4 separate regions of the Homo sapiens genome follow, and all the other regions are linked to region 2. The links come from fine-mapping of genetic effects on gene expression. A gene starts in region 2. Each other region holds a variant in brackets. All regions are shown on one strand. Distances are between the middles of the regions. Region 1 has its middle 6.6 kb from the start of ATP2B2-IT1. Region 2 holds the start of GHRLOS (ghrelin opposite strand/antisense RNA). Region 3 overlaps LOC101927467 (a long non-coding RNA gene). Region 4 holds the start of TATDN2 (TatD DNase domain containing 2).

What was found. PIP is the estimated chance that this variant, and not a neighbour inherited with it, causes the effect.
Region 1: its variant is fine-mapped to the expression of GHRLOS in vagina (GTEx, PIP above 0.99).
Region 3: its variant is fine-mapped to the expression of GHRLOS in nucleus accumbens (GTEx, PIP 0.98).
Region 4: its variant is fine-mapped to the expression of GHRLOS in whole blood (TOPMed, PIP 0.90).

The regions. Positions count from the first base shown.
Region 1 is chr3:10,572,885-10,580,985 of GRCh38, forward strand. It overlaps a transcript of ATP2B2 not described here. Among named protein-coding and RNA genes, the nearest start is that of ATP2B2-IT1, 6.6 kb to the left of the region's middle. The variant C/T (reference allele first, on the strand shown) is at 3,184.
Region 2 is chr3:10,277,354-10,285,454 of GRCh38, forward strand. It overlaps GHRLOS (ghrelin opposite strand/antisense RNA), which reads left to right and starts at 3,599. Exons shown (of 6, transcript NR_073568.1): 1 at 3,599-3,649; 2 at 6,168-6,250. TATDN2 (TatD DNase domain containing 2) reads left to right here. Exons shown (of 8, transcript NM_014760.4): 6 at 926-1,109; 7 at 1,532-1,710; 8 at 1,868-3,865. The coding sequence ends at 1,672. MIR12127 (microRNA 12127) reads left to right here and starts at 2,998; the gene lies at 2,998-3,099. LINC00852 (long intergenic non-protein coding RNA 852) reads left to right here and starts at 7,066. Exons shown (of 1, transcript NR_026829.1): 1 at 7,066-8,101.
Region 3 is chr3:11,067,855-11,075,955 of GRCh38, forward strand. It overlaps LOC101927467 (a long non-coding RNA gene), which reads left to right. Exons shown (of 3, transcript NR_188517.1): 2 at 3,986-4,084. Among named protein-coding and RNA genes, the nearest start is that of SLC6A1-AS1, 53 kb to the left of the region's middle. The variant C/T (reference allele first, on the strand shown) is at 3,882.
Region 4 is chr3:10,247,019-10,255,119 of GRCh38, forward strand. It overlaps TATDN2 (TatD DNase domain containing 2), which reads left to right and starts at 1,441. Exons shown (of 8, transcript NM_014760.4): 1 at 1,441-2,049; 2 at 2,177-2,596. The coding sequence starts at 2,183. RefSeq lists a silencer at 1,327-1,756 and an enhancer at 2,009-2,877. The variant A/G (reference allele first, on the strand shown) is at 4,628.

The sequences.
Region 1 (8,101 bases), 300 kb after region 2:
TGGAAGCTGCATCTCTCAGCTCCAAGTCCAGTGCTCTTTCTATTCTACCAGAGACAGGAACACAATAAGGCTTCATCTAATCACTAATGATGGAATTTCAGGCATCTGCAGACGGGACGTGCAGATTCCTGGTGCATCTCAAATCATGTGAACAAGACAATCAACACACAAAGCAATTTCTGCCCGCAGGTTCCTTTGACACAATGATAATGAGATAAAATGGTTTTTATTTTCCTCTTCTTTCTTTTTAAAATCAAGCCAAATACATTTTTTTTTTTTTGCATGGAATATACTCTAGTTTTGGACAGGGTTAATTAAAAGAAAAAAATACATATTAAAAGGCCAATTTGATTACTGCTACACATTAGTAATGCAATGAATAATTGATTGAATGTCTATGTTAATTGCTTCCTGAATCAGTGATTTTGCTGCTGAATTTCGAAGAGCTGTTGCTATTTTGAAGTTAGTGATAAGTTCACTGCACCAGGATGGCAGAACTTGGCACAGAGAGTAAGCTCCTGCATGGCACCCCACCTCTACTTCCTGTTCACCCCCTGCCTCCCTGACTGCATGCTCAGTCTCTTCCCTAGAACTTTGATCACTACCTGTTCCTGAAACAAGAGGGTCTCAAATTTTGGTCAATTTCAGATTTCTGGGGGAGCTTGTTGAAATGCATATTCCTGTGTCCCCATCCAGGTTTTGATCCCAGGCCTGGGACTCTGTATTGTTAACAAGTGTCTCAGAGGCTTGGTTGGGTACCATCCTTCAGCAAGAACTGGCTGGGGTAGAAATAGCCTATGCTGAGCCAGGCTCCAGACTCTGAGAGCAACGCCATCTTACTCTCTGGGTTCCTATCTACTGCTTCTTTGCTGGTAGAGTGCCCCATTCTATACAAACTGTTCCACTGGGACGTCCTGGAGACTCCCTGACTAAACTCATCTAAAAAGAAGCCTTCTTCAATTTGCTTTTCCTCTGGGAGCTGTCAGCCCAGCAAATACGGCGTCTGCCTGGTCCTGCTTGCTCAAACCCAGATCCTTTCTGGTCTCTCACTGGTCCTTCCCCAAACATTCACTCAGCAGCCAGACTCTGCCTGTCTCCCCCCATTATAAATCCTATTGACACGTTCAATTCTGCTATTTCAAAAAAATTTGTTTCCAGAGATTCTTCTTGTTCTCCCAGGGGTCCTTTTATTGCTTCTCCCTCTTGTCTTATCTCCCAGCAATGTTAATTAATTGCAGTGGGTTTTGGAAGTTATCTTCTGCTTTCTGCTTTGCCTCTATTTTCTCCCAGTTTCTTTCTTCTGGGTTTTGGTTCCTGCCTCCCTCCGATGCCCGCTGAGCCTAGGAGTCTATTCCACATAAGGGGGAAACATGAAACTGCTGATTGTGAGCTCTGTGGGGTAAGGTGGTCGCTGAATGGTGGGCTTCACCGAGGTGGCTGAGCTGTGCCCCGGGAGGCCCCCACACAGCAGTGGTGATGGCTGTTTCTTTTGGTGCTGGTGACTTTCCCTAGAGCAGAATCATCTGGTCCTCTGCCTGGAGGATCTGCCTGGGCCATCTGTCTGCCTGGCGTTCTCAGAGCATACTAGGCAAGGGGCATTCTCCATATCAACCTTTTCTTCTATTGATTTTCAGTCCATCTCATCCTTTTAACAAGGTCTAGATGATGCTTATCTCCCTGGTGGGCATTTTGGGTAATTATTAGTTTCTTTTTTCCTTATCTCTAATTTATAATTATTATTTACATTTCTCTATACACAAAGTCACTTGTAAAACATGGAGCACACATATTTAAAAGTAGTAATATCTACTTGGAATGATCTTTTTAAGATTAAATTAGATCATGAGTGTAAGGAACCCTGCAAAGCTTACAATATTAATTTAAAAAGTAAACAGGTCTCAGCTGTGTGGGGGAAGGAGGAGTGGACTACTTCGGGGTGGGAGACTGCACGGTAGGGGAAGGATGTGTGGGTATGGAAGACCCGGTGAGGAGGGGGATATGAGGGTGGGATTCTTGGGTTTGTCTGTCCCTTGCAGGGAGTGTGGTGGGAACAGCCATTCACAAAGGGCTGGCTGACTTGACACCTGGGCCTGTGTCTCAGGGCCTGCCGGGCTGGGACACACCCAGACCCCACATGTCAACAAGGGCCTGAGTAAACCCTGGTATTTCTGAATCCTTGGTGAAGTCCCCGCTGCCGACTGCTCAGTGCCTGGGGTCACAATACAGCCTTTCCGCCCGGGGGAGAAAGCTGAAAGAAAGAGCTGGAAGTGGGGATAGGTTCCCCAACCCCTCCTCCCACCACTTAGGCTCCAGCACCAGAAAAAGCCATCTGGATCACAATTCAGAATTGCTGGGCAGAGGGTGTACCTGAGGGGAGGTGCAAGAAGGCTGAGCCTGAGGGCCCTATATGTCTGTAAAGCTCAGAGGGTTATTATGCCCCATTTTGCAGATGAGAAAACTAAGGCCAATGGGGCTCAGACAAAATAATAATTATAGAGAAGAGGTCATTGGGAAAATGACCTCCTAGAGTTCTAGGGAGGATTCAACGAAAACAATCCATATAAAGTCTTTAGATAAGAGTTTCAGTTGGGGAAGATGAAGAATTTGTGGAGATGGATAGTGGTGATGGTTGCACAATGATGTGAATATATTTAATGCTGCTGAACTACACACTTATGGGAGCTATGGAAGGCTCTTGAGCAGGGGCAGTGATAGGTGGACACTGACTTGAGAAGACTTAGCTGGCAGCTCATGCATGCTAGGTTATGTCTGGGGTAGAGAGGATGAGAAATGTGCATAAAAACACCAATACCTGGAGAGGAGAATTTCCCCTGGGCTGCTGGCTGGCAGCCCTCTGTTGTCTCTGGTGTCTGAGGGAAGTTGTGCTGGCAGGGAGGCTCTATGTAGGGTTGCATTTGGGAGTTTTGCCCAAATCTATGGGCTTCTAGGATAACCTAGAGAAGCGCTAGTTATTTGAGGGAGAATCTGACTTCTGGAAACTGTCCAAAATCTGGGCCTTAGAGACCCCATGTGTTCAGTTCTGAGCAAGATAGGAAACCTTAAAATTGTCCCTCATGTCCAGGGATGCGTGGCCCTTAACAAGCACTTGGCATGGATGGCCTCACTCCCCTGCACAATGACCCTGTACCGCAAATGCTGCTAACGTGTTCATTTCACACATGG[C/T]GAAGCTGGGGCTTTGCCTAGGCCCTACAGCTAGTTGCTGGCAGAGCAAAGTTACAAAGCCAGGTTTGCTGACTGGAGGTGTCCAGGCCTCCAGATGCCTTAGCCCCTGTGCTGACTGCCCCCGTGGATGGACCTGGCACCAGAAAAAGGGCAGGGCCGAGGATGTCCTGCGCACACTCGGCAGAACGTCCTTGCAGGCATGAGCATGCTTCTCCTGCGGCCTCACTCCACACTCCGAGGCTTCCCTTCTCACTCAGGCTGCTTAGGCCGAGTGTACGGTGAACACTGAGCTCAATCAGAATGATTGTTCTTATTATTATTGTTATTTTTTGAGACATCATCTTGCTCTGTTGCCCAGGCTGGAGTGCAGTGGTATCATCATGGCTCACTGCAGCATCAACCTCCTGGGCTCAATCAATCCTCCCACCTGTCTTCTTAGTAGCTGAAACTACAGGTGTGGTGCCACCTTTCCCGGCTAATTTTTAAATTGTTTGTAGAGATGGGGTCTCACTATATTCCCCAGGCTGGTCTTCAACTCCTGGCCTCAAGTAATCCTCCTGCCTCGGCCTCCCAAATTGCTGGGATTACAGCCATGAGCCACCACACCTGGCTCAGAATGATTATTTAAAGGTCCAGAGTCCTTTTGAAGAGCTGGAGGGAATGACGAGCTTGGCATAACGTGGGAGGCTGTCTTCAGGACAATATAAGAAGCTGGGGCCGGGCGCGGTGGCTCACGTCTGTAATCCCAGCACTTTGGGAGGCCAAGGTGGGCGGATCACAAGGTCAGGAATTCGAGACCAGCCTGGTCAATATGGTGAAACCCCGTCTCTACTAAAATTAGCCTGGTATGGTGGCGGGTGCCTGTAGTCCCAGCTACTCGGGAGGCTGAGGCAGGAGAATTGCTTGAACCTGGGAGGCGGAGGTTGCAGTGAGCCAAGATCACCACTGCACTCCAGCCTGGGTGACAGAGTGAGACTCTGTGTCAAAAAAAAAAAAAAAAAAAAAAGAAGCTGCCTGGGTATGGTCCTTGGGCCAGCAGCCTCATTGTCACCTAGGAACTTGATGGAAGTCCAGGCACTGAGATCCCATTCCAGATCTACTGAGCTGGAATCTGCAGTTAGCAGGATTCCTGGAGAATCACATTCACCTTAGGACTTGAGAATCACTAGGCTGGGAGGCCAACAGGTGTGGCAAAACCGCCAAGTTGCCATAGGGAATCTTGGGAGGCTCTGGGGTTCCAGACACTGGCTGAGATTCCTGGCTTCTCATCTAGTCTTTCCATTTATGGAAAGTGGCAAGAGTTCAGAGATAGGAGGTAACTTTCCCAGTGTCACCCGGCAAGACAGGAGCAGAGCTGGTATAGGATCTCAGACTTTTGGTGTCCTCTTCCTCAGCTTTAATCCCCAAGGCCATCAGGGGATCCCAGGGCTGCAGAAACCATCGGCTGGGCCAGGGCCAAGCAGGAGTCTCCTGAAGCTCCATCATCCTCATTAATCTCCCAACCTCAGAACGGGTTGTTTTCCTGAGAGGAACAATCAGTGCCTTTGGGGACAGAAAACCCCTGGGAGGGGGACTCAGAGAAGGCCCTGGGCTGCACAATGTAGATGGTGTCCTGCCAGCTCCCAAAAGAACAATCTTTCTTGGCAAGCTCATGGGGATGCATTCCCGGCAGCGTGACTCGGAATGGCAGGGTTACCGGGGAACCTGGGATCTCCCTGGGGATGCCAGAGGGAACCCGAGGCACTGTGCCAGAGGAGGATGAGCACTGAGCTGAGAGTCCACAGACCAGCAGCCTGGTCCAACACTGCTGCTGATGGTTTTCAACCATCCACTTCCTGTGCAGAAAACACTAATAACTATTGCTTATATTCTGATTCTGTCCATGAGCTCCATGACTCTAACTGTGGCTGTGACACAGTCCCGAAATCCAGAATCCCAGAGTCCAAGTCTCTACTCTGTCTTCAGTAACCCTGTGATCTAGGCCCTAGATTCCAGGGCAAGGGGCTCAGCATCTCTGAGGCTCAGTTTCTGCTTCTATGTAATGGGTATGATCACACACCTACCATAGTGGCGAAACCTATAATGACTGACTGTATCAAGTGTTGCTGGAAACATGGAGCAACAGAGGCTCTCATACGTTGCTGGTGGGAGTGTGAAATGGAACAGCCATTTTGGAAAAAGTTTTGGTAGTTTCAAGTAAAGCAAAACCTACACCTACCCTATGGCCCAGCAATCCCACTCCACATAAGAGAAATAAAAATATATAGGAGATCGAGATCATCCTGGCTAACATGGTGAAATCCCGTTTCTACTAAAAAAAATACAAAAAATTAACCAGGTGTGGTGGCACGTGCCTGTAGTCCCACCTACTCGGGAGGTTGAGGCAGGAGAATTGCTTGAACCCAGGAGGTGGAGGTTGCAGTTAGCCGAGATCTCGCCACTGCACTCCAGCCTGGGTGACAGAGAGAGAGTCCATCTCAAAAAAAAAAAACAAAAAGAAAAACATATATATGTATATGACCACCAAAGACTTATACACAGATATTCATAGAGACTTAATTCACTATAGCTTAAGACTGGAAACAACCCAAATGCCCACCCACAAGAGAACAGATGAACAACTTGTGATGTAGTCTGACAATGAAATACTACACGGCTCTGAAAATGAATGGACCATTGATACCTGGAGCACATGGGTGATGGATGAATCTCACAATGTTGAGTGAAATAAGCCAGGCAGGAAGAGAACACACCATGCGATTCCATTTATATGAGGTTCCAGAGTAGGTGAAACTAATCTACCGTGGTAATGGTCAGAGCAGTGGTCTCCTCTGGAGGGCAAGGAGGGATCCACTGGGAAGGGGCGGTGGCCTCCTGGGGAGGTGGCAACGTGCTACAGCTGGATCTGGGTATTGGTCATGCATGTAGAAACAGAGGTAAAAATTCACCCAGGAGTGCACTTGAGATTTGCTCATTGTACTGTGCAGTTTTACTCAATGAGAGAAAGAAAGATTAAGCCATGTGGGAGGGATGGGGAGGACCAGGCCTACCTCCCAGGGAAGTTCTGAGAATGGTACTAAAGAAGACCATGAGTCCTGCTCATAGTGGATGCTCAACCAACGATTGCTAAAGATAAGTTGAAGTTTTGTAGGGGAGGCACCTCTCATTCTCTTGGGCCTCAGCTTCTTGCTCTGTAAAATGGGAATAATGAGCTTGCAGCTCGTGGAGATGATGCTGCAAATGTGCCCAGAACAGGGCTCGCCTCCTGAGTGGCCAAGGTGGGGTCTGTGCAGCTGCCCTTCACTTAGAAACAGACTGAGAAGGGCCCAGTGCGGTGGCTCACGCCTGTAATCCCAGCACTTTGGGAGGCCAAGGCAGGCAGATCCCCTGAGGTCAGGAGTTCAAGAGCAGCCTGGCTAACATGGTGAAACCCCCATCTCTACTAAAAATACAATAATTAGCTGGGCATGGTGGTGCACACCTGTAACTCCAGCACTTTGGGAGGTCGAGGCGGGCAGAGCACCTGAGGTCAGGAGTTCGAGACCAGCCTGGCCAAAATGGCAAAACCCTGTCTCTACTAAAAAATACAAAAATTAGCCAGGCATGGTAGTGAATGCCTGTAATCCCAGTTACTTGGGAGGCTGAGGTAGGAGAATCACTTGAACCTGGCAGGCAGAGGTTGCAGTGAGCTGAGATCATGCCACTGCACTCCAGCCTGGGCAACAGAGCGAGACTCCGTCTTGAAAACAAAACAAAACAAAACAAAACAAAACAAAACAAAGAAACAGACCCAGAAGGTGGGCCTCAAAGTGCCGCCCCACAGTTTCCCCTTCCATGAATGTAGCACAAGTGACTCCATTTGGCTCAAAAAAGTTTCTAACGCCTCCTGGCAGGTGGAAGTTCTGAGCACCCTGGTCACAGAGAGGCCCAAGGGATTCAGAATGCAGTGATCCAGGGGCTCTAATGGCAGGGATAGGCTGAGGTCCCACCCACTGACAGCCACTCTTCCGGTCATCCTACATCAACAGGGGGAGTGTGGATTACGGGCCATGTATAGGCAGAGGAACTGAGGCTCAGAACAGGTGACAGGGCTGGATGGCAGGGGAACGAGACTCAAGTCCTGGTCAGTGTGACCCCAAATCCTGTGCTCATCTTAATATATCAATAGGAAACGCGGAATACTCTAAAAACCAAAGAACACTTGTGTACCAGCTACATGACTCTGGGGGAGTCATTAGCCTCTCTGGGTCTCAGTTTCCCTGCTCCACTGGAACCGAAGCTCTTATGAGGGCAGGGGTTTCTGTGTGTCTTGCTCTTCTTGTGGCCTCAGCACACAGAACAGTGTGTGGCATAGAGCAGGTGCTCAGCAAATACTTGTTACATAAAGGAAGCAGTGATTCTGTGGATGAGGGTGGCGTGTAAGGTCAGCTTGGCCTGGTCCCAACCGACACCTCCGGCCCTTCCCACGATACCCCTGCAAAATGCTCAGTGCGGCTCCTCCCCTACCACCCTCCTCTGCTTCCTCATCTTTGGGCCTTATCCCTGTCCGCAGCCCCTCCTCCCTGCCTCCCCCTCCCTGTCTCCCTGCTCCCACGCCTTGTTCTTCTTCACAGAAACTTTCATGCCTGGGAGTGGGGCGAGAACTCTCTCTTCTCTGATCTTTTATAGCATTTCAGAGATCACATAGGTTTCTCCATAGACCAGGTGCTGGCCCAACCACAGCCTGTGGCCACATCAGGCTTCAATTGCTTCTTGTAAGTAAAGTTTTATTTGAATACAGTCATATTCATTTGTGTGTATCCATGGCCGTTTTCACATATTATATAGCAAAGTTGAATCATTGCGACAGAAGTCATCTAACTTGCAAGGCCTGAAATATGTAATCTGGCCTCTTACAGAAATTTGCTGACCCCCGTCA
Region 2 (8,101 bases):
CAGGAGACAGGTTGGATGGTGGCTTCTGCCTACATAGCATGTGGGACTGGGTGGTCATAGGTGCTGTGGGAGCCACAGCAGGGGCCCATTATCATAGCCCAGCCAGAAGACTCAGGAGGTGATGCCTGGCCGGCTCCTTAAAGATGGTTGAGAGGGGTTGGCTGAATAACAAGGACTCTAGCACCCAAATCGGGTCTTGTCAGATGGCAGAAAAAGGAGGATGGGGCTGTCAGGGCCTTTGGGTACCTAAGCAGAATGAGTGAAGCCTCTGACCCCTGGCTGCTGCACACACCAATGATGAGGCAGTCAGTTGGCTTTTCTGGGTCGGTTGGTTTTTCATTACTTCATTTTGGGCTAACTTTGAAGGAAATGTAATGGTGGCTGGTAGGCCAGGGCTAAGGTGACCCAACGAGGTGGTATTGCAGGAGGAGGCCCTAAATTTACAGATTGGTAACTATATATATGGCACCAAGAACATGAACAGGTATCAGATTAAGAAAATCCACCTGTAGTTCGACTCCCCAGTATTTTGTTAGATTTCCTTTCAGTTCATTTGACTACTTGGGCATAGTTTTTATATGCTGTCGTTGTCATCATAGGGGCCACAGTTGTTGATTTTGCTCCTCTTCAGTGTTAGAAGCATTTCCTATCCCAGTGTGTTCTCTGTGGTGGTCATCTCAGGGGACTGCAGAGCACTCTGTGGTGTGCGTGGTATCTCTGAGTGATCTCTGATCACTCACCAAGTGCCATCTCGGGGCTTCCTGTGTTGGAGCCAGCCCTTGTCTGTGTTTACTGTGGAGTCCTTCCCTAGGATGCAGTCTTTCCATTTCTGGGAATCATTGAAAAGGGGTGATGGGTGTGGGGGGAGCTGGGGGCTGCTGCAGAGGGGACTGTGAGCAGCCCTGATGTGGAGTTCTGTCTCCAGGCATTGCTTCACCGGCAGCTACCCGGTCATTGAGCCCCTGCTGAAGTACTTTCCCAACATGTCTGTGGGCTTCACGGCAGTGCTGACATACTCCTCTGCCTGGGAGGCCCGGGAAGCCTTGAGGCAGATCCCACTGGAGAGAATCATCGTGGAAACGGATGCTCCCTATTTCCTCCCTCGCCAGGTAAGGGGGTCTTCAGGCTGAGTGGAGGCACCGGAGGGAGAGGGTGGGGAGGTGGGTGGTCACCCTTACAAGGTTGGCAGGGCCAGAGCCCCAGTGACTTCCAGGTCCCATCCTGGGCTGTGTAGATGCCTCCTTGCTGTTACTCTGCAGAACCAAAAGTCTAGGGGGCTGAGAAGCTGAAGGGTAACCACTCTCTTCCAGGCAGTGCAAAGCCCTACCCTGTAGAGGGTAGTCCAAGGAAGCGTGGGACCCTGCTCACCCAGAGCCCCCATGACTAGGACTCTCCCTGCACCTGCAGGTAAAGGGGTCTCTACAGGGCAGCCCCAAAGAGGTCCTTGCTGGGGAAGGGACAGGGAGGGAGTTCTAGATTATGACTGTGCACACATGGCACAATGATGTTATGACCACTTGATGTCTTCCAGGTTCCCAAAAGCCTTTGCCAGTATGCCCACCCGGGCCTGGCCTTGCATACGGTCCGAGAGATTGCCAGAGTCAAAGATCAGCCACTCTCCCTCACCTTGGCTGCCTTGCGTGAGAACACCAGTCGCCTCTACAGTCTTTAAGCAGAGAAGGTACAGTCCTCGGGAGTCTCCTAGAAAAGGTCGTAAAACTCACATTCTGTATTTTTTAAAAACCAGGACAAGTCTTTTGTTGCATTTTGTTAATGTAAAGAATATAAACATAGTATGAGCATTAAGCCTGATTTGTTTTGAGTGACATGGTTTGGAACCTTCTTCTTTTTCTCTTCCACCCTCCAGGGCGACCAGCAGCCTGACAGAACACAGGCTGGCTTGAAGTCTGTGTCTCAGGTCGAGGATGTGTTTAGAGAGCTGATTGGAACACAGAAAACCAGGACAGGATGTTTTCCTCCAAGCGGGTCATAAGGCTTCAGCTTCTGGGTGGTGGGTGGGGTGGGGTGGGCATGGAATGAGGGGTATGGGGACTGCCTGTAATAGCACTGGGATTTTGCCTCCCAGCCAAAATGCTCCAGGGTAGGCAGCAAAGAAGAAAGAGTGCGATATGAGGGTACAGTGAGTTTGGCAGTCCAAATTCTGTTCTCTGCAGCCTGTTTTTGAGTAGTTGGTGAATAAAGTCACCCGCCTACTTGTCTAAGCACATGTGGGTGTGTAACTCAGTTCCTGGTTCTCGGTTCTAAAAACAGACTTCCAACTGGGAAACTTTTTGGGGGAAATTAACTGGACACCTATCTCGGAGGTTTATTTTCTTGCAACCAGTGAAGTCGTCCTCCTCCCTTCCCTGGATAACTCTTCAGTTTGACTGTCACTGTTCTGGTGTCAACTCCAGCGTCGGCACAGGCAGAAGGACTTCAGCTGCTGGTCTCATTGGTTCCACTGCCATTGATATGGGGGGGTGCAGAGGAGCACTCATTGTCCATGATGGAGATCCAGGACAGACTGGGGGACTCCGGGAAGAGGCTTTCTTGGGGAAGAGGACCCCAAAGGAGGTACTTCCTCCTCACTGATGCCCTCAGGGCTGCTGTGTGGGTGTGTTAAGCTGATAAGGTTCAGTTTGCGGCGGAAACTACCTGCTAGTCTTGTGTCAGGGGCTGCCAGCCTCCTTTTGTTTCACTTTTGCCCCCTTCTTGGGAACATTTGACCAAAAATAATCCTCATTTCATCTTGTGTACAGTCCTTTGTGTACCCCGCCCAGGTTGAGAGGTGAATCAGCGTAATTCTCCGAAGCTCTGCTGGGCAGCTCAGCCATGTTACATTGTCTATGCAGAATAAGCAGGCCTGGTGTCTGCAAATGTACCAGTCCTTCTCCCGCATCTCCTGGGTGCCCCCTTGGCTTTGCCTCTCCTGTGTCCTGTCTTTCTGCGTTTTAGAAGTGAGAGCCTCTCCTTCACCTTTTGAGCAACTGAGTCATCTCAAGTCCTGAGCTCTGCTCTGCCGCCTGCTGGTGCCTTGTAAAGGTATACTCGTTACAGGCCCTAGAGGTTCTAATGGTCCAGGGTTAAGTGAGAGGAGACTGTACTTTGTTTCAAAGGATCCTTCACCCTGATCTGCAGTGAGGTGGATAGATCACCTGGAGTCCCTCGTCTGTGGTCTTGGAGGCTTAAATTGTAAAATACATCCCTTATGGAATCCTAAATTCCTCTAGGTGTTTTTGGAAGGCGCATTTGAGCCTTGTGAGCTAAAATGGAATGGATTTAATATTTCCTATCTGGCATTTCCATCTTGCCCCTGGTACACAAGTCACTGGCCTGGAACTCAGCCTTGATTCACTGTCCGTCTTCACGGATTAGCTGTGCTGTTATGTTGTCTGTGCTGCAGATTGGCCCATGTGGGAAGTCGGGGGGGACCTGATTTCCTGCTTGGAAGACTTGGGGGACTGCCGAGCATATCAAAGTGTTTATAGTCACCAAGTGAACTGCAGCACAACCATCTCCTCTCCAGCAAGCCCTGAAGTCAGTAGTGCCTGCAGGTGAAACCAACCAGCCCTGTGTTAGAGGAGGAAAAGCGGAGATGACATGGAAGTCTCCAAGCCTGTGCCATCCACCTGCCAAGGAAAAGCACAAGGTGCTATCTACTTTTCTCTCTAGGATTTAGATTATCATTTATGTGCTGTTGCACAGTGAAACCTCACCTGTGTGGGCGTGAAAGCTGATTGGCATTGTTTTTGATTCAGCTTTTTGGATGGCTAATTGTTTTCACTGTGCTGTGGGAATGCCTCTGTATTTTTTCCCCTCTTTGGCCATCTTTTTCTGAAAATAAAGTGATGGATCCTCTAGCCAACCCAGTCTCTCCGTGTTTGTATAGACTTACCTGAGTGATGCAGTGGTTTAGTCTGGTTGTTGGCCAGCATTGTAACCCAAGAATCCAGGTAGCTGGAGACTTTTTTTCTTTCTTTTTTTTTTTTTTTTGAGAAGGAGTCTTGCTCTTTTGCCCAGGCCAGACTGCAGTGGCACTATCTCGGCTCACTGCAAGCTCCGCCTCCTGGGTTCACGCCATTCTCATGCCTCAGCCTCCCAAGTAGCTGGGATTACAGGTGCCTGCCACCGTGCCCGGCTAATTTTTTGTATTTTTAGTAGAGACGGGGTTTCACCGTGTTAACCAAGATGGTCTCGATCTCCTGACCTCGTGATCCACCTGCCTCGGCCTCCCAAAGTGCTAGGATTACAGGCGTGAGCCACCGCGCCCGGCCAGCTGGAGACTTTCTTGAGTATCTATGTGGCTCTCTGTAAAATTAAACTGCATATAAGAATTCTTAAAGTTCGGCCGGGCATGGTGGCTCACTTCTGTAATCCCAGCACTTTGGGAGGCCAGGGCGGACAGATCACTTGAGGTTAGGAGTTCGAGACCAAGCTGGCCAACATGGTGAAACCCTATTTCTACTAAAAATACAAAAACTAGCTGGGTGGGGTGGCACGCGCCTGTAGTCCCAGCTATTCGGGAGGCTTAAGCTGAAGAATCACTTGAACCCGGGAGGTGGAGGTTGCAGTGAGCCAAGATCGCAGCACTGTACCCCAGCCTGGGTGACAGAGCGAGACTCTGTCTTTCCCCTCCCCCCGCCTCCCCCCAGAAAAGAATTCTTAAAGTTCTACAGCCTTAGAGTGTTAAGTAATTTTACTGTCTGGGAACTCAGATGCACTGCTTCTTTCTGACCTATGTAGGTACTTTCTTTTCTTTTTTTTTTGTTTTTTTTTTGTTTCCAGCTCAAGGCTGTAGGAGGAAGAAAAATCTAGTCCCTGGGGGTACTGATGAATCAGTTGGATGGTGGGCGTTGGACTGTGAATTCCTGATGCCTCTGGGTAAACTCTGGAGGAAATTCTGTTTCATTACTTGCACTCAGCCCTCCTATTTTGTACTAAGGTATTCTTGAATACAAGTGCACCGGCCAAAAAAGTAAACTTACGCATAAAAAGAAAGGCTCTCTTCCTTCCAAGAATGCTGAACACCTTTGAAGTCTCTGTTGCTGCCTCATCTTTTAGATACAATCATTGATTATGTATTTTTGGCATCGTCCTGAACTTTGTTTCATTTCCTTCACAGTTGAATGTGCAGTTGGCTTTGTCCACTCAGTGATGGTCCTTGTGACTGTTCTTGGCTTTTCTGTTGTTTTTCCATCTTTCTATAGGAAGCTTGAGACCGATACTCATCGTTTGCTTTCAGCACCTTAATTTTGCTTTGTTCATTTTTGTAAAGTAAGGGCAAATGGCCACCGGAATGTACAGTGATTAAAGAAGCAAACTCTGTCAAAGATGGTGATTAGTGGCCAGCCAGTCCCTCTCAGGATCACTGTATTAAAAAGTGCTCATTTGCCAGTGACATTTTTTTTTGGTTTTGGTTTTTTTTTTTTTTTTTTTTTTTGAGACTGAGTGTCACTCTGTCGCCCAGGCTGGAATGCAGTGGCCTGATCTCAGCTCACTGCAACCTCCACCTCCCAGGTTCAAGTGATTCTCGTGCCTCAGCCTTCTGAGTAGCTGGGACTACAGGCGCCCAATACCATGACTGGCTAATTTTTTTTTTTTTAAATTTTAAGTAGAGATGAGATTTTGCCATGTTGGCCTGTTTGGCCTTATACTCCTCATCTCAGGTGATCCACCTGCCTCGGCCCCCCAAATGCCAGTGACATTTGTAGGTGGATTCAGATTAAGGTGGGTAGCTTAGTTGAGGCGTCTCAACCCTTTTCTGTGCACTCTCTCAAGATGATTTCTGAACACACAACTATAAGTGCATGAGAACTTAAATACGTGTGCTCTTATGCTAATTATACACAAAGTAAAAGTTTTTTCACAAGGAGAATTTTTTTCTCCAGCAAATAGCTCGCTCACCCTAGGGGTACATACACCCCACTTTAGAGACCCTCAAGTTACAGTGGTATCATTAAACGATCCATAAAGGAGTGGGTTTAAGAAAGCTGATACAGGAACATGTTTGAAATAATACATTTTCTCAAGGGTGTCCTCCAACCATTTTCTTTGATAAATTATATTTCTGCCCATTGTTGACTTGAAATTGTCCTCACCCCTCTACCAAGTTCACCCAGTGTATTCTGAAGGAAAATGAATGAATATGGAAACCTCTCTCATCCTAGGCAGTAGAGCGAGGGAAGCTGCACTGGCTGAGAGGCTGTGGAACCGGATGAAAAAGCAGCCCCTGAGTCCTGTGGCGTTGGCTGTGAGTCGGCCACGTGCTTGCTGTGTGCTTTAGGAAAGTTACTTAATTTCTCTGAGCTTTAGTTTTCTCCCTCATAAGTAGGCTTGCTGTGAAAATGAAGTGAAATCACATTAATCTGCATGAGCATTTAACACGGTGCCTGGTGTACATCAGGGGTGTGACAGTGAGTGCTGGCTGCTGTAGTAATTGAATGCTTAGCTACGTGCCGGGCCCTTTGCCAGCTACAGCTCATGTGAGACCTCATGTTCAGTCTTGGCAGTAACCCAGCAAGGTAGGCATTTTACATGTGAGGAGCCTGAGAAATTCAGTCTTGGCCTGGATCACAGAGCTGGTATCCAAATTCAGGTCCGAGGCCAAAGCCCAGATCTTTGCACTACACCTTGTTGCCTGGCACAGGTGAGAGTGCCCAGCCCATAGTGGGTGCGCAATATCTGTTTCTATTTGAATGACCCAGGCAGGCGGTTAATAATGCTTGTGATTTCTTTGAGAGAGAAGTAAGTTCTTGTCTTTGGTGGGGGAAGCATCAGGTGACCAGCATTTGTCCAGAGCCTGGTACCCATCCTCTCCCAAGCCCAATCAGTGGTGCTTTCTCAAAAAGAAACCATCTCCTGACCACTTTGGCCATATTGGGCCTTTGCTCCTCTTCTGTAGCTATTGATAAGAGGGCTGTGGGCAGTTAGTGATAATCAAGGTCGTATCCCAACTAAGTGACAGAGCTGAGACAGTTAAGTTCCAGGACAAGTGTGTTGATCTCTGTACCCACTTGTGCCAGGTGCCTGGGGAGGTAGGGGCATGGCTGTCTGAGGGTGGAGGGGTGAGTAGGGGGCCTGCAGTGTGCTGTGACGCCTGGGAAGGGGATTCTAAGCCATTTCCCATCAGCCGTTTACTAAGTAGCCTGGGGATCTTGTTAAAATGCAGATCCTGATAGATTAGGGCTGGGGTGCTGCCCAAGATTCTACATTTCTAAGAGTCCCTGGATGACGGTGGCATTCACAGACCACAGCTTCTATGTGAGGGAGAGCAGTTGGGTTTCTGTCTGCCTGCCGCACCTGATCAGTAGTTAGTGCCTGCATGTGTGGCGGCCAGAATTTTACTTGGGGAGACGCTCGGCTCCTAGCACCCTCTGTGGTAGGGGTTTTCCAGAGTGTGGGCATTACCCCAACTGTCTCTGCAGACGGCTTCCTGCATGTTTCCCACAAGCGCTCAGATGGCTGAATTGGCAAGTCTGTGGTGCTGCTCTTTGGGGCCACCTCGTTCTTTGCCTTTCCCTCCCCTTAGCGATGTGTCCCATCCGTTGCCTACAGTCAAGTCAGTCCACATGTTTAGGCTAAGGTGGGCATGACCGAGTGGCCTTCCCCCGGGAAGACCAGTGTCGTAACTGGAATTAAGTTGTGGAACATAAGAGTCAAGGCTCGTGTCTGCTGTGAACTGGAGTTGAGGGAATGTTTGGGGATCCCACCTGGTATCAGTAAGGGAACCATGGCGACGGCCAGCCTTGCCCATGTGAGGCATTTGCTTTGTCAGGCCTTCTCAGTAGTGGAGAAGGGAGGAAGGAGAATGCAGCTCTTTCAGTGCTGTCTAGCAGTGCCCAAGAGCCGTGATTGGGCACCTCACTTAACGTCTAACTTCAGATTCACTCTTGGGCATTCCTGTCTTCCTCTCCAATCTTGAATGGATGTTGGCTTCGATAATGTCATCCTGAAGTTTCTTTGTCCACACAGCCCTGGCTGGTTGTTAATAAGCTGTTAATGCAGCCTTGCACTCAGGAAGCCCTGATGTTTAAAGGAACTGTGTCTTTGTTCTTCCTCTCTTCCCTCTTTCTCTTAGTCCCACTTTATCTCTTCTTTCTCT
Region 3 (8,101 bases), 790 kb after region 2:
GGATGGCTTGACAGTGGTGCCTCAGAGTCCCTGGCCAAACTCCAGGGGAAGACCACCTTCCCATTCCATCCCCTTTCCAGCTTCCCATCCCACTGAGAGCCACTTTCATCAGCAATAAAATCCTCAGCATTTACCATTTTCAATTCATTCGTGCAACCTGATTCCTCCTGGACGCTGGACAAGGACCCTGGTGCGTGTGCAAGACGTTGTCAAACTGACCCTCCACTGAGCTGTCTAACACTTAAGCTGTCCATGAATGGCAAAACTAAAAGAGTGCACTGTAACACATGGGGCTCTGGGGGTCATGGGCAACCCCTAGATGCTGCTGCAGGCCTGCACAGAGTTCTGCTCCTGCCAGTTGCCCAGAAGCACTCCTCCTTACCTCTGCACCCACTCACCTGTGTGCTCCCCCTCCCATGAGGGGTTGAGAGCTATAGGCTGAGTAAGCAAGCCACCCCTTCATGAATCCCACAAAGGGGTCAAGGGAACTATCTCATTTCATTGATGAAGGTAAAATAAGAAATATTGTAAAGAAATGCATAGGCAATATGACAATTCTTTTGCATTAGAATATTTAATAATTACTAGTCGTGTGTCTAGAGTGAATTTCTGGATTGCACAGGATGTATAGTAATGTTGGTGGACTTAAGGATACTGAATTGTGTATCAGGAATAAAATATTCATTACGTGGGGTTTTGGGGCTCTAGGTAACACTGTAGCCTCTGGGGTAGACCGAGTGGGGGAAAGGTTGGAGGTTTGGAGGTAGGTTTCTTGTTTATTTGTTTTTGCTTTTTTTTTTTTTTTTTTTTTTTTTTTAGGAGTCTTACTCTGTCCCCCAGGTTGGAAGTGCAGTGGTGCAATCTCAGCTCACTGTAACCTCCGCCTCCCAGGTTCAAGCGATTCTCCTGCCTCAGCCTCCCGAGCTGAGATTACAGGCACGTGCCACCACACCCGGCTAATTTTTGTGTTTTTAGTAGAGATGGGGTTTCACTATGTTGGCCAGGCTGGTCTTGAATTCCTGACCTCAAGTGATCCATCCACCTCCGCCTCCCAAAGTGCTGGGATTACAGGCATGAGTCATGGCACCTGGGCTGTTTTTGCCTCTTTTTATTTGTTGTTCATTCTTCTTTGGATTTTGTTTGTGCATGCATATATACTATAGATTTTTTTTAGCATCTAGTGGAAGGCTTTTATTTGGTTCTGTGAATAGTTATTTTGTTTCATATGAATTTCTAACAAGTTATCACTTATTCTATTTATCTGGAATGCCTAGGCTGCCTTTGTTGGGCCCGCAGGAATTGATGGAGCACACCAGCCATTTGGAATTTGGTTTGTTTTGCTTACCTCTGATGATGTTGAAATCTATGAGCCCTTTAAGGATCCTGGCAAAAATAAAAGACTTGTTTTTACAAGTTCTGAGCAGAAATAGTACATTACATATTTCGTTATTTGGAAAAGTAGGTATGTTTAAATGTAATAAAGTAGGCATGTTTTAAAGTAGTAGAAATGTTTAAGTGATGTTTTTTCCAAGGTAATTCAATTAAATCAATGATTTGAGTTGGTTTCAGATCTTTTCCTTTAATGAGGAAAAACTGTGATATGGGTACAATTTTAATGTTCGAGAAAGACTGGCTTTGTCCTTAGGGAAATTATATTGGTTAGGATTTCTCTCAAACTAATTGAGTTGTGTTGATCATTATTAAAATTAAGGAATATTCATTTGGATTAAGTACTAATAAAAAATTCTGAGACTTTCTAGTGATCTCTGATCCCAGGCCATTTATCACTGATGGACCTTCATGTGTATACTTGAAAACAAAATATGTGCAGGCGTTGCACTGGTTTGAAGATTTTGGTGGTGAAAGTTACCTAATCAGCTGTCACTACTGTCTCTAGAAACCAGTCTTGGAAATGTGGGATGATGCTCTTTTAAATAACTGAAAAGAAATTATTGTGTACTTGTCCTTACTTTGTCCTTGTGTTGTTGTGTGATATTTAAGTGAAAGGAGATTATTTATCCTCTTACGGAATTGACAAAACTGACATTTGCATTTATCATTTTTTTAATGATGGAGAGAAAAGCTGGCTGTCTTATTTTGCCATAGGACCTATCACTTTTTGATGCTTTTGGTCACAGTTTTGTCACTAGAATACTAGCAATTAGATATATGCAGTGAGTAACCTAACTACTTAATACAGTGGTTTGAAGTGCTGCAGGCAGTAACTCCTAAAGGCCAAATTTCAGTGTTTTAATTTGTAACATGTTAGTGTGTCTGGAACTGGTGGGTTCTTGGTCTCACTTCAAGAATGAAGCCGCGGACCCTCGCGGTGAGTGTTATAATTCTTAAAGATGGTGTGTCCGGAGTTTGTTCCTTCTGATGTTTGGACGTGTTCGGAGTTTCTTCCTTCTGGTGGGTTTGTGGTCTCGCTGGCTTCAGGAGTGAAGCTGCAGACCTTTGCAGTGAGTGTTACAGTTCTTAAGCCAGCGCGTCTGGAGTTGTTCATTCCTCCCGGTGGGTTTGTGGTCTCGCTGGCCTCAGAAGTGAAGCTGCAGACCTTTGCGGTGAGTGTTACAGCTCATTAAGGCAGTGTGGACCCAAAGAGTGAGCAGCAACAAGATTTATTGCAAAGAGCAAAAGAGCAAAGCTTCCACAGTGTGGAAGGGGACCCGAGCAGGTTGCCACTGCTGGCTCAGGCAGACTGCTTTTATTCCCTTATCTGACCCCACCCACATCCTGCTGATTGGTCCATTTTACAGAGAGCTGATTGGTCCATTTTGACAGGGTGCTGATTGGTGCATTTACAAATCTTGAGCTAGATACAGAGTGCTGATTGGTGCATTTACAATCCTCCAGCTAGACATAAAAGTTCTCCACCAGATTAGCTAGACACAGAGCACTGATTAGTGCATTTACAAACCTTTAGCTAGACACAGAGTGCTGATTGGTGCGTTTACAAACTTGGAGCTAGACACAGAGTGCTGATTGGTGCATTTACAATCCTCCAGCTAGACATAAAAATTCTCCAAGTCCCCACCAGATTAGCTAGACACAGAGCACTGACTGGTGCATTTACAAACCTTTAGCTAGACACAGAGTGCTGATTGGTGCATTTACAATCATCTAGCTAGACATAAAAGTTCTCCAAGTCCCCACCAGATTACCTAGATACAGAGTGTTGATTGGTGCATCCACAAACCCCAAGCTAGACACAGAGTGCTGATTGGTGCATTTACAATCCTCTAGCTAGACATAAAAGTTCTCCAAGTCCCCACCTGACTTAAGGAGCCCAGCTGGCTTTGCCTAGTGGATCCCACGTAAGGGCCGTGGGCGGAGCTGCCCACCAGTCCCGCACCACGCGCCCACACTCCTTAGCCCTTGGGCGGTCGATGGGACCGGGTGCCACAGAGCAGGGGGCAGCACCTGTCAGGGAGGCTCGGGCTGCACAGGAGCCCACAGTGGGGAGGGGGGCAGGCTCGGGCATGGCAGGCTGCAGGTCCTGAGCCCTGCCCCACCAGGAGGCGGCTGAGGTCTGGCAAGAATTTGAGCGTGGTGCAGGCAGGCCGGCAGTGCTGGGGGACCTAGTGCACCCTCCATGGCTGCTGGCCTGGGTGCTAATCCCTTCACTGCCTAGGGCCGGTGGTGCCGGCTGCCTGCTCCGAGTGCGGGGCCTGCCAAGCTCATGCCCACCCGGAACTAGTGCTGGCCTGCAAGCGCCATGCGCAGCCCCAGTTCCTGCCCACGCCTCTCCCTCCACACCTCCCCGCAAGGAGAAGGAGCCGGCTCCAGCCTCAGCCAGCCCAGAGAGGGGCTCCCACAGTGCAGCAGTGGGCTGAAGGGCTCCTCAAGCACGGCCAGAGTGGGTGCTGAGGCTGAGGAGG[C/T]GCTGAGAGCAAGCAAGGGCTGCCAGCATGCTGTCACCTCTCATTAGAATGATAGAACTTTCTGTAATATAAACATTGTATTAATGAATGCTTGTGCTGTTAAGTTACAGGGCTTTGACTCTTGGGTCTGAAGAAGGCACCAGCCCCTGCTAAATTCTGAGCATTGACACCAGTGGAAGCCTCATCCTCAGACTTGGAAGAAGGTAACAATACAAATGAACTGTTTTTGTGAGACACAGGCCAGAAATTAAAACTATTCAATCCCTCTAGGCCCAGAGACTATTGCAGAAGTGGTAGGTGTGTGAAGTTATAAGGGCTGATTTTGAGGCATAAGATTAATTCAGAGTTTTTCTATAAATTAAACATTAATATCAAAAGCTCCCTGATGCAAGGCCAGCATCTGGGCCCATGTGTTGGAATAACAGGGTTTTCTTGGAACATTTATCTGTTCTTTAATAGAAAATTGGAAACAATTATTAAAAGTTTATGGAAACCTTACCTTATGGTCAAACTGATTGCAATTAGATTTTTATAAGGTTTTATTAAAATTAGCTTTGACATTAGTAATATACCATACAAAGGTAAAATATCGTTTTCTTTTGAATAAAATGTTTGTGTAATACTGAGAGATAAAAGATGATGTTGACCTTCTGAGTACACTGCAGGGAGATAATGGAGTGGAGAGAGAGATTTAGTTAGCCTCATGCTGTCTTTATTAGGTCTTACTGTTTGGGAAACTAAATCTATCAAAAAGTAAACGTCTTTATTTTATCACCTCCGCTAAATGAATGACTATTTTTACAGTGACTTGTGATATTATTTTGTGCCTAAAACTTCGCTATTTGGCAAACTTTTTTTTTTCTTTTGAGACGGAGTCTTGCTCTTTCACCCAGGCTGAAGTGCAGTGGCGCCATCTCAGCTCACTGCAAGCTCCACCTCCCGGGTTCACACCATTCTTCTGGATATTCGGCAGACTTCTAAGAGCAAACTTTCAAGTTCTAAATTCAGTCTCTTGACCTTAAACTAACTTTCTTGGATATTAGGTTCCCTGAAGTCTGAGAGAGACATATTAGGCTGATTTGTTACGTTAGGATTATGCAAGAAGCATTGCCAAATCTGAGATGATGTTTAACTTCCCTTGGGTTATATTTATATAGATGTATTGTTAGTATGTGTTCCAGGATTGTATGAGAGTCCTAAAATTCTGATACGTCTTAATATATGTTGTCAGTAGTAATTATTATTATATTAAGTTGTTTTATGCCACAGAAATGATTAAGTTTCCTTGTCAACTGTGTCTTTAACTATGGCTGTCTGAAGACTTTTGTCATCCACAATTGATGTTTTGCTGTGATCCTTCTCAAAAGAAAAAAAGTGACTTACAATCAGCTATAGTCCAAAGCTTCCTTCTTTGGAGGAGTTCATGAAAAAGACTCTTGAATGCAGGTTTCTGATAACTTTGGAGATTGTGCCACTAGATTAGAGAGAAAATTTCCAGGGCACTAATTGAAAGGCTGATGTGCTCATAAAGATTCCCAACCCAATACGAAGCAGAGCAGGAGGTGATTGCATGGACTGAACTAATGCAGGACAGAAAGAACTTTTTATGGCTTTTGTTGTTTGAAATATTGCTGATTCTTTTGGTTTTGTTTTTCAGAGTCTGGAGAATCTTTTTCTTTTGAGCTATTTATTTATAGCCTTTAAGTGTATTTATAGTCTTAAAGTATATATACTTCAAGGGTATTGAATGGAGTATGCTTTTATAAACAGAATTTGAGAGATATTTCTCTGCTTAATTTATCCAGAATATGGAAACTCTTTGTGAATATTCTTAATTCATGGTGTTTGTTTGCACACAATTAATAACATGTTTTCTTTTGTAATGGGACACAGTTGGAGTAACTGGTTATCTTCTCAAGGCTTTGACTGAAATGGCCTTGTGAGATTCCAGCAAAGCCAATTTGGGAGTCTATATGGACAATGATTCTTGTTGCACTTTGTGGGTTATCAGGCCAAGTATATGGAACTGAAGCTTATTTTGCAGGTAGAGTGGTCCTGCTGTGATTGTCTTTGGTGGAAGTGGGGAACTGGAGAGAGAAAGATTGAGTGTCAGAAGAAAACTCTATATTAGATTAACCTTTGATTCCTGGGTGGCCACTGCCTAGGACACCCATCCTCAGAATGAAACAGCCAGAAATACTCAGACCAGATTCCTCATGATTGAGGGATTGATAAGTAGAAAGGGGAGACTGAAACCAGCCCAATTGCCCCACAGACCATTATTTTTGATAACTATAGAAATTGATCCTTCTGGGCTTAAAGCTTGAAATTTACATCTGTTTTATGTGAGTTCCTTCCTCAGGAAAGGAACTTCAGGCCTCTCAAAAAAGTATCAAAGAACTAAAACTCACCAGATCACTACACCAGATAGTACCCCTCATTCTCATGATTGCTTCCTTGCCCCCCCCACCCCGAGTTCCTGTTTTCTTACACATAGTTACATTTCTTCCCCGCTATATAAAGCCCCAGTTTTAGTAGGTCAGGGAGATGGATTTGAGGCTGAGCTCCCATCTCCTGGACTGCAGCACCCAGTTAAAGACTTCTTCCTTGGCAGTACTCATCTCAGTCATTGGCTTTCTGTGTGGCAAACAACAGGACCTACACCAAACCCTTGGTGTTTTGGTAACCAATTGAGGGACCTGATATCAGTGAGCAGCTTCCCCTCCAACTCAGCTTCCCACCTTAGGGACCCAGGCACCAGGTTGGATGCTTCCACATCCTCCCACCCTATATCCAGTCATTGGCTCCTGTTTATTTTACCTCTTAAAGTACTTCCCAAGTGTATCCGTATCTCATAACCCCAACCACAAACCACTACCCAACTCCCATGACTGCCATCCCTTGCTGTAAAGCAGCTGAGCCTTCCACTGGCCTCTCCACCCACATTGCTGCTGTGGTCTTGTATCTGGAATTGGTTCCTTTCAGTGGGTTCTTGGTCTCACTGACTTCAAGAATGAAGCCACAGACACTTGCAGTGAGTGTTACAGTTCTTAAAGACGGTGTGTCCAGAGTTTGTTCCTTCAGGTGTTCAGATGTGTCCGGAGTTTCTTCCTTGCAGTGGGTTCTTGGTCTCGCTTGACTTTAGGAGTCAAGACACAGACCTTCGCAGTGAGTGTTACAGCTCTTAAAGCTGGCGCATTGGGAGTTGTTTGTTCCTCCCGGTGGGTTCATGGTCTCGCTGACTTCAAGAGTGAAGCTGCAGACCTTCACAGTGAGTGTTACAGCTCATAAAGGTAGTGCAGACCCAAAGAGTGAGCAGCAGCAAGATTTATTGTGAAGAGCAAAAGAACAAAGCTTCCGCAGAGCGGAAGGGGATCCCAACGGGTTGTCACTGCTGGCTTGGATGGTCAGCTTTTATTCCCTTATTTGGCCCTGCCCACATCCTGCTGATTGGTCCATTTTACAGAGCACTGATTGGTCCATTTTACCTAGTGCTGATTGGTCTGTTTTTACAGAGTACTGATTGGTGCATTTACAAACCTTTAGCTAGACACAGAGTGCTGATTCGTGCATTTTTACAGAGTGCTGACTGGTGCGTTTACAAATCTTTAGCTAGACACAGTGCTGATTGGTGCATTTTTACAGAGTGCTGATTGGTGCATTTACAAACCTTTAGCTAGACACAGAGCACTTATTGGAGCATTTTTACAGAGTGCTGATTGGTGCATTTACAAACCTTTAGCTAAGCACAGAGCACTAATTGGTGTGTTTTTACAGAGTGCTGATTGGTGCATTTACAAACGTTTAGCTAGACACAGAGCGCTGATTGGTGTGTTTACAATCCTTTAGCTAGACAGAAAAGTTCTCCAGGTTCCCACCCGACCCGGAAGCGCAGTCAGCTTCACCTCTCAGTCCTTTTAAAATGCCACTCTGGCCATGTCATGCCACTACTTTCTCTGGCACCCAAGGCCCTTTAGGATGCAGCCTCTCACCCTCCAGCCTCCCCGCCCATGCTCCAGACCCACCAGTCACCTAGCTCCTCTCTGTTTTCCCACCTCTGTGCCTTTGCACATGCTCTTCCTTCTGCCTGTGGTCCCTTTCCACTGTCTTTAGTGGGAAAATTCCTGCACATTTTCAAGCCCCCAGTTCAAATGCACTTTCTCTGTGAACCTCCCCATTGGTGTCGCCTGGCAGAGGGACTGAGCTCCACCAACACCCCC
Region 4 (8,101 bases), 30 kb before region 2:
TAGCTGGGACTACAGGCGCCTGCCACCACGCCTGGCTAATTTTTGTATTTTTAGTAGAGGCGGGGTTTCACCGTATTAGCCAGGATGGTCTCGATCTCCTGACCTCGTGATCTGCCCGCCTTGGCCTCCCAAAGTGCTGGGATCACAGGCGTGAGCCACCACACCTGGCCTTACATGTACTTTTTTAATGGTTGAGGTGGAGCCATCTTTCTTATATTTAGGAGCGTTTCATGATTTGTTTTTGTTCATTGCTTCCTTTGCCTTTTTTTTTTTTTTTCCCTGAGACAGGGGTCTCACTTTGTCTCCCTGGCTGGAGTGCAGTGGCAGTAATCTTGGCTCACTGGACCCTCGACTTCCCAGGCTCAAGGGATCCTCCCACCTCAGCCTCCTGAGTAGCTGGGACTACAGGCGCCCACCACCACACCAGGCTAATTTTTGTGTTTCACTAGAGACAGGATTTCACCATGTTGCCCACGCTGGTCTCGAACTCTTTGCCTCAAGAGATCCACCCACCTCGGCCTCCCAAAGTGCTGGGATTACAGACGTGTGCCACTGGACCCAGCCTCCTTTGCCAGTCTTAATACTAAGTTATTTTATTATTTTGGGAGAATTGCTACATCGAATATCAGCCCTTTGTCATATGTTTCGAGTATTTTTCTGAATTTGTACCTTGTCTTTGATTTTTTTTCTTTTTTGAGACAGGGTCTTGCTCTGTCCTCCAGGCTGGAGTGCAGTGGCGGGATCACAGCTCACTGCAGCCTCGACCTCCCGGCCTCAAGTGATCCTCCCACCTCAGCCTGAGTAGCTGGCATCACGCCCAGCTAATTTTATTTTTTGTAGAGATGGGGGTCGCACCATGCTGGCCAGGCTGGTCTCTAACTCCCGAGCTCAAGCCATCCTCCCGCCTCGGTCTTCCAAAGTGCTGAGATTGCAGGCGTGAGACACCGTGCCCAGCCGTCTTTAATATTTTTCACCAGGCGGATAGTTCACATTTTTGTGTAGTCTTTTTTTTTTTTTTTTTGGTGCCTTCTAATTCTAATTCTTCCCATTTCTGGGTGTGTACTTAGTCTCTCTGAGCCACAGTTTTCTGCTCTATAAAGTGGGGTGATAATGCTCAGTACACGGTTTGCTTTGGCTCGATGAGAAATCCAGGTCTGAAAGCTTCAGGTACAGCGGCCGGCGCTGAGGAAAACAGCGTTAAGTGAGGCGCGTCAGCGGACACCACCTGCCTGCACATCTGGCTGGCCTCAACTTCCCGCTGTTCGAGCCCACGTGAGTGGCTCCGCCCCATCTGGCTTCTGACCAATGGACGAGCTTCCTAAGGCGTACCGTCCCGACTCCAAGGCGCCTGGCTTTGAGGCGGGCTGCGTCTTGCTCGGAGTCCCGCCCCTTGCCGGGTCGAGCAATGGGCGCCTTCCGTTTGGCGCAGGCCCCGCCCCTGTCGCTCTCCGGCCTGCGGGCCGCAGGGCTCGTTCCGGAGGGCGGGCGCCACGGAGGCCGGAGTGGTCGCAGTTCGGGCGGAGGCCGGGCCAGGCGGGGCTGTAGGGCTGGGGCAGGCGGCGGGCTGCCCGGCGGGACAGCTGCGGCAGCCGGCGGGGGGCGTCCTGAGTTGGCGGTCGAGGGCGCTGCCAGCTCCCGAGGGGCCGCTCGGGCCCCTTCCGGCCCGGGTCTGGTTGGGCCGCAGGAGCAGGGCGGGCTGCGGCGCCCGGGTCTGGCCCTGGCCTACGGGCTAAGCGCCCGGCCCCGGGGCCGCGGATCCGGCAGCCATGTGTGGATCTTGAAGCGCCATGTGGTCTTCTGAAGCGCTTGACAGTTCTAAAGGGCTTTATATTGCAAACTGATCAAAGCGCTTCGTAGCCCCGGAAGCGCTTAGGCATCTCCGAAGTAGCGCTGGGCAAAGTGAAGGCTTCCTGATCTCAGAAGCACGTTGTGGGCTTGGAAACCGACGGCAGCCTTTAGTCAATTTTGGATCGCTTTGACTTCTCCAACACGGTTTGGCATCTCTGAAACCTTGAGAACTGTGATGGGCAGTGGAAAGAAGAGGGAAAGGTCAGTGAGGCTAGCCCCTGGCTCTGCCCTTATGTCTTGCCGTCCTCCTGGGCCCGGGGTGGCGGGAATCTGAGGTGGGGTCGCCAGGAAGGGTGGTGTTGGAATCCAGGCCCCCTGTACCTTGCAGGTGCCCATGGCGTCCGAGCGGGGCAAGGTCAAGCACAACTGGAGCAGCACGTCGGAAGGGTGTCCCCGCAAGCGCAGCTGCCTCCGGGAGCCCTGTGATGTGGCCCCCTCCAGCCGGCCAGCTCAGAGGTCTGCGTCGCGTTCTGGAGGGCCCAGCAGCCCCAAGCGCCTGAAAGCCCAGAAGGAGGACGATGTGGCTTGCTCGCGGAGGTTATCCTGGGGCTCATCCCGCCGCAGAAATAACTCCTCCTCCTCCTTCTCCCCACATTTCTTGGGCCCTGGTGTGGGCGGGGCCGCCTCCAAAGGCTGCCTGATTCGGAACACTCGGGGGTTCCTGTCTTCAGGGGGATCCCCTCTGCGTCCTGCCAACGCCTCTTTGGAAGAAATGGCTTCTCTAGAGGAGGAAGCCTGCAGCCTTAAGGTAGGTGGCTGCCACGCTTTGCAATCGGTGAAGCCCCTTCCACATGGCTTGAGAGGTTGGGGATGGGAATTTTGGTGGAAGGAGACTACAAAACATTACATCCTTGAAGGTCTGGAAGGTCTTTCTAGAAGTCCACTCCCCCCAAACTCGAAGACCTAGCAGTCTTCCAGGCGCGTGGCCTGAAGTTAAGTAGAGAGGTAATTTTCAAACTCGGCAGCACTTTGGAACTACTTGGAAAGCTTTAAAATACTTGGGCCTGCCTCCTACTCCAGAGAAACTGATTTATTGGGCTGAGGTGTGGTCTGGGCTTCCAGATTTTTCAGTGCTCCCCAGGTTATTGTAAACGTGCAGCCCCGTTGGAGAATCACTGCAGTAGAAGGTGGATTATGTGCTCAAGAGAAGAATGTATTTATTTTAGTTGTCAGTTTAAAGAATTGTGTGCCCTTGTACTTTGAACCACTCTGAATCACAGAACCAAGAATTGCGGTTCTTGGTGTAGCTTTTCTCCAAAGTCATAGTTTCCAGCATGTTGGGGTTTTGCTTGGTGGTGCTAGTTTTTTTTTTTTTTCTTTTTTTTTTGGAGGTTAAATTGTTAATTCCCTAATGGAAACATGCAAGAGGGTTTCATAAGTACTTTGAGCAGACCAAGGAGTGCTTCACAGAGAAGATACATTTCGCTCATCTACTCAATCAAGGCTTTGAACAAATATGTGTTGAGGGTTTAGTTTGTGCCAGGCAATGTTCTAGGTGTTTGGGATTCTTTACTAACAAAACAGATCACTTTCCCCTTAGAGTTTGCATCCTAGATTTTGAAGGTCTGAGTCTTAAGAAGTGAGAAGTTCTGCCTGTGGAGGAGTGGAGAAACAGTCTTATTTGGGATCAGATGGGCTGCCTCTAGAGAAAATTACTTTACAAAAGCAATTAAAACAGGCCCTAAGGAATATGTGTTTGTTTTTAAGCCTAGCCTTGGTGGTTTCTTTTGTGTAGCTGAGAAAGGAGGCTGTATTTGACTGTTTGTCTTGGGGACTCATAGGCTAAGTGCCCCTGGTTTTTTCAATGTGGACCTCACTGTCTGAACTCTTGTGTGGGCACGTGGATTTTTTCTTTTTAAATTCACAAATAACAGTGAGTTGAAAAGCCCTGTCTCTAGCGTAGGAATGCTGAATTTGTCTCAAATCAGGTAAGTATGGGACTTTGCTCATACAAGTTAATCTTGCCATTAATCCTTGATACAATTTCAGTAGACTTGGGTACAGCATAAAATAATACCAGTTGATTCAATTTAGCTTCACTGACAATTTGTAGATAGAGTGAAACCTGTTACTGGGAGAGGCAGGAAATTTACTTTACATAGTCTTTCAGGTGTGCTGAATCCCTGGCTGTCCTAAAGACCTGGAACTCAGGTTTGAGGGTGTGGTCTCTAATCTGGGTGGGTCTAATTGTAGGTGGACCCACCTTTCTCTCATTAAGGCTAAAGGGGCCTTGTTTTGCAAGAACCCAATTTAATGGTTTCAGTAGAAGCACTTGAGGGTTATTGTGGGCCACGCACTGTTGGGTCTGGGAGTGATGAGCTTCTAGGGAGCAGTCTGGTGGGAGGGCTGGAGGAGTGGTCGCATGACTGCCCACAATGTGGTATGATGGAGTAGTGAGCCCAGAATGGAGGCTGGAGAGCGAGGTAGGGGGTGGATTGCAGCAAGGTTTTAGTAGCCAAGGGAATTTGGATTTTATCCTAAGGACAATGGATTTTATTCTAAGGGACAATTCCCTTAGAATTGTATTCTCTTTTTTTGAGACAGATTCTTACTGTGTCACCCAAGGTAGACTGCAGTGGCATGATCTCTGCTCACTGCAGCCTCCACCTCCTGGGTTCAAACAATTCTCCTGCCTCAGCCTCCCAAGTAGCTAGGACTACAGGTGTGCGCTACCGTGCCCAGCTGATCTTTGTATTTTTAGTGGAGATGGGGTTTCGCCTTGTTGGCCAGGCTGGTCTCTAACTCCTGACTGCAAGTGATCTGACCGCCTCAGCCTCCC[A/G]AAGTGCTGGGATTACAGGTGTGAGCCACCATGCCCGGCCAATTGTATTCTTATTTTAAAAAAATTATTTTATTTTTTTGAAACGATTTCCCAGGCTGAAGTGCAGTGGCGCAATCATGTCTCACTGTAGCCTCAAACTCCTGGGGTCAAGCAATCTTCTTAAATAGGTGAGAATATGGGCATGTGCCACCACACCCTGCAGATTAAAAATTTTTTTTTTGGGCTGGGCGTGGTGGCTCACGCCTGTAATCCCAGCACTTTGGGAGGCCGAGGTGGGCAGATCACGAGGTCAGGAGATTGAGACTACCCTGGCTAACACGGTGAAACCCTTTCTCTACTAAAAATACAAAAAGTTAGCCGGGCATGGTGGCGGGTGCCTGTAGTCCCAGCCACTTGGGAGGCTGAGGCAGGAGAATGGCATGAACCCAGGAGGCAGAGCTTGCAGTGAACCGAGATCAAGGCACTGCACTCCAGCCTGGGCAACAGAGTGAGACTCAGTCTCAAAAAAAAAAAAAAAAAAAAATTTTTTTTTTTGTAGAGATGAAGATCTCACTGTGTTGCCCAGGCTGGTCTCAAACTCCTGGGCTCAAGCTGTCCTCTTGCCTTGTCCTCCCAAAGCGCTGGGATTAGAGGCATGAGCCACTGTGCCAGCTGGATTGTCTTCTAAGCAATTAGAGAATTTATACAGGGCTCTACACAGAAAAGGAAATTGCATTGTAGAAAGATCACTCTTGTCGAGTGAGGGTTTTTATATTACCCTGATTGTCCATCTCTAGGACTGCTGAAGTCTCTTCCTGGAGTATATGTTTGTCAGTTTAAAAACCAAGTGTACAGTACTTGACTCATCTTGATGAATTACAAAACACCTCTTACCTTCCACCTTCATCTGTACCTCTTCCTCCCTTGCTCTGTGGTCATCTGTGAACTTATCTGTCCTGGTCCTAAGTCCTTCAGCAAGCACAGCCGAGGGGTACTCACAAAAATGGCATGTTCATCCTCAGGTCCTTCTAGAGTCCTCTCACTGCTCTCCTGTGTCTGCTCTGTAAACTTTTTTTTTTTGTTTGAGACAGGGTCTTGCTCTGTCACCCAGGCTGGAGTGCACTGGCATGATCATAGCTCACTGCATCTCAACCTCCTGGGCTCAAGCGATCCTCCTGCCTCAGCCTCCCAAGTAGGTGGAACTCAGGCGTGTGCCAACCTGCCTGGCTAATTTTTTTTTTTTTTTTTTTGAGACAGAATCTTGCTCTGTCACCCAGGCTGGAGTGCAGTGGTGCAATCTCGGCTCACTGCAAGCTCCGCCTCCCGGGTTCACGCCATTCTCCTTCCTCAGCCTCCCCAGCAGCTGGGACTACAGGTGCACGCCACCATGTCCGGCTAATTTTTTTGTATTTTTAGTAGAGATGGGGTTTCACCATGTTAGCCAGGATGGTCTCGATCTCTTGACCTCGTGATCCGCCTGCATAGGCCTCCCAAAGTGCTGGGATTACAGGCGTGAACCACCGCGCCTGGCCTGCCTGGCTAATTTTTTGTGTTTTGTAAAGACAAGAGTCTCCCTATGTTGACCAGGCTGGTCTCAATCTCCTGGGGTCAGGCAGTCCTCCCACCTTGGCCTCCCAAAGTGCTGGGATCACAGGCATGAGCTACTGTGCCTGGCCTTGCTCTGTAAACTTTGAGGGTTACACAGTTGACTTTGTTCCCTTCTCCCACCAGCCTTTAACACATCTTTCTCTGTGCCAGGTCACAGAATATTCTGAGGGGAAGGTGTTAGACTGGTCATTTTAGAATCGGTAGAGATCCCTGCTGGCTGACCTCACATCGTTCCCTTCTTACCTCCAGGACAGTTGGAGATGTTTCATGTTAGCTGATGATCTTCATTTACTCTTCACAGAGGAGACTAACTGTGTGACGAGCACCTTCATGTAGTAAAGATTATTTTTACTATGACATCTAAATGTCTACATTCAATTTAGAGTTGAAAGAATGGAAGGGAAAATTTGAGCATGTATGATAAGGCTTGGTCAACTATGATTCTCGATGTTTGATCTATAGACTATCACATAATCCCAAAAGTGTCGTGAAGTAGGTGGTATTATCTCCACATATCCATTAGTAAATACCTTCATATCAATTAACAAATATTTAAGCACCTACTCTGTGTAGGCACTGGGCAGATGAGATTCAGAAAGGTTAAATAAGCTGACCAAGGCCATGCAGCTGGTAAATGGCCGAGCTGTGGGGTAATATCAGATTAGTCCAACTTCAAAGCCAGTGTTCTCTGCACTGCTGCCTCTGGGAGCACCTGCTCTGTTCTAGCCTGGCATCAGATGTAGGGGTGGCAAGACGAAGGTGCCAGGGTCCCTCCCTTGCGGAGCTCTCTGCAGGGTGAGTTAGCCCAGGCACAGTAAAGCACTGGGTATTGAGGCTCTTGAGTGATAGAGCTTTTGCACATCCCCTTTCCTGCATCTCCACTTGGCACATGTCTAGTGCACACGTGGAACACCAGGCTTGGGGCTGTTGTTGCCAAGGACAATCGGGCCATGCTTCACAGACTGAGAAGTCACTCACCACGGGGCAGTGAGTGGAGAGCTGTAACAGGGATGGGTTTGGAGTACCCAAGGGTCAGGGGAATGAGCGACTGACCATCAGGAAGGTCCTCACAGAAGAGGTGACATCTGAGTCTTACTGATGGACAAGGAGGGGGACAGGACATTTCGGGCATAGGGAGCAATACATGCCCAAAATGTCAGGAAATGCTGCTTGTCTGGAGTGCTTGGGGCACTGCTGGCCCTCCCTTCTCTCATCCGTGCTCTCCTGCGTTCCCTGGACACTTGCGTGTTTGGAGGAAGGCAGGAGATGAGGCTAGACAGGAAGGCTGGGGCCAGTCTGTGAAGGGTTCCTGATGAGCTCAGGGGTAGGGATTATTCTGTAGGCAAATGTGGAGCCCTGGAAGGGTTCTAAACTAAGGCTGAAGTGGTGGGGTTTGCATTTTAGAGCTCCTCTGGCACGCTGCAGAGAAAGGGTAGGAGGGAGAAGACAGGGAGCTGGTGAGGAGCTGTTGAAATCCTTCAGGCTACTGGTGATAGGGCTGGAGCAACATCTCCACTTATCTTTCCTTCTTTCCTTTGGAGATGCACAGTTCACCAAGCAGTGCTTCCAGGAAGAACGAACTCTCCCCTTTATGAAGTCAGGTGGTTTGTCTCTTACCTTCTGCCCATGGTCTACCTACTTCTTACCTTTAGAGCCAACTGTCACCTGCTGAAACTCATCCTCGGTGTCGTTGATCCATCTTAGGTCCTCCAGCCTAGGAGAGTGTTTCTCACTTTCTCTCTTTTTTTCCCCCTTCCCCCTTCCTCCTTCCCACTTCCCACTCCCCCTCCCCCTCCCCCTCCCTCCTTTCCTGTCTGTCACCCAGGCTGAAGTGCAGTGGTGCAATTGGCTCACTGCATCCTTGACCTCCTGGCTCAGGTGATCTTC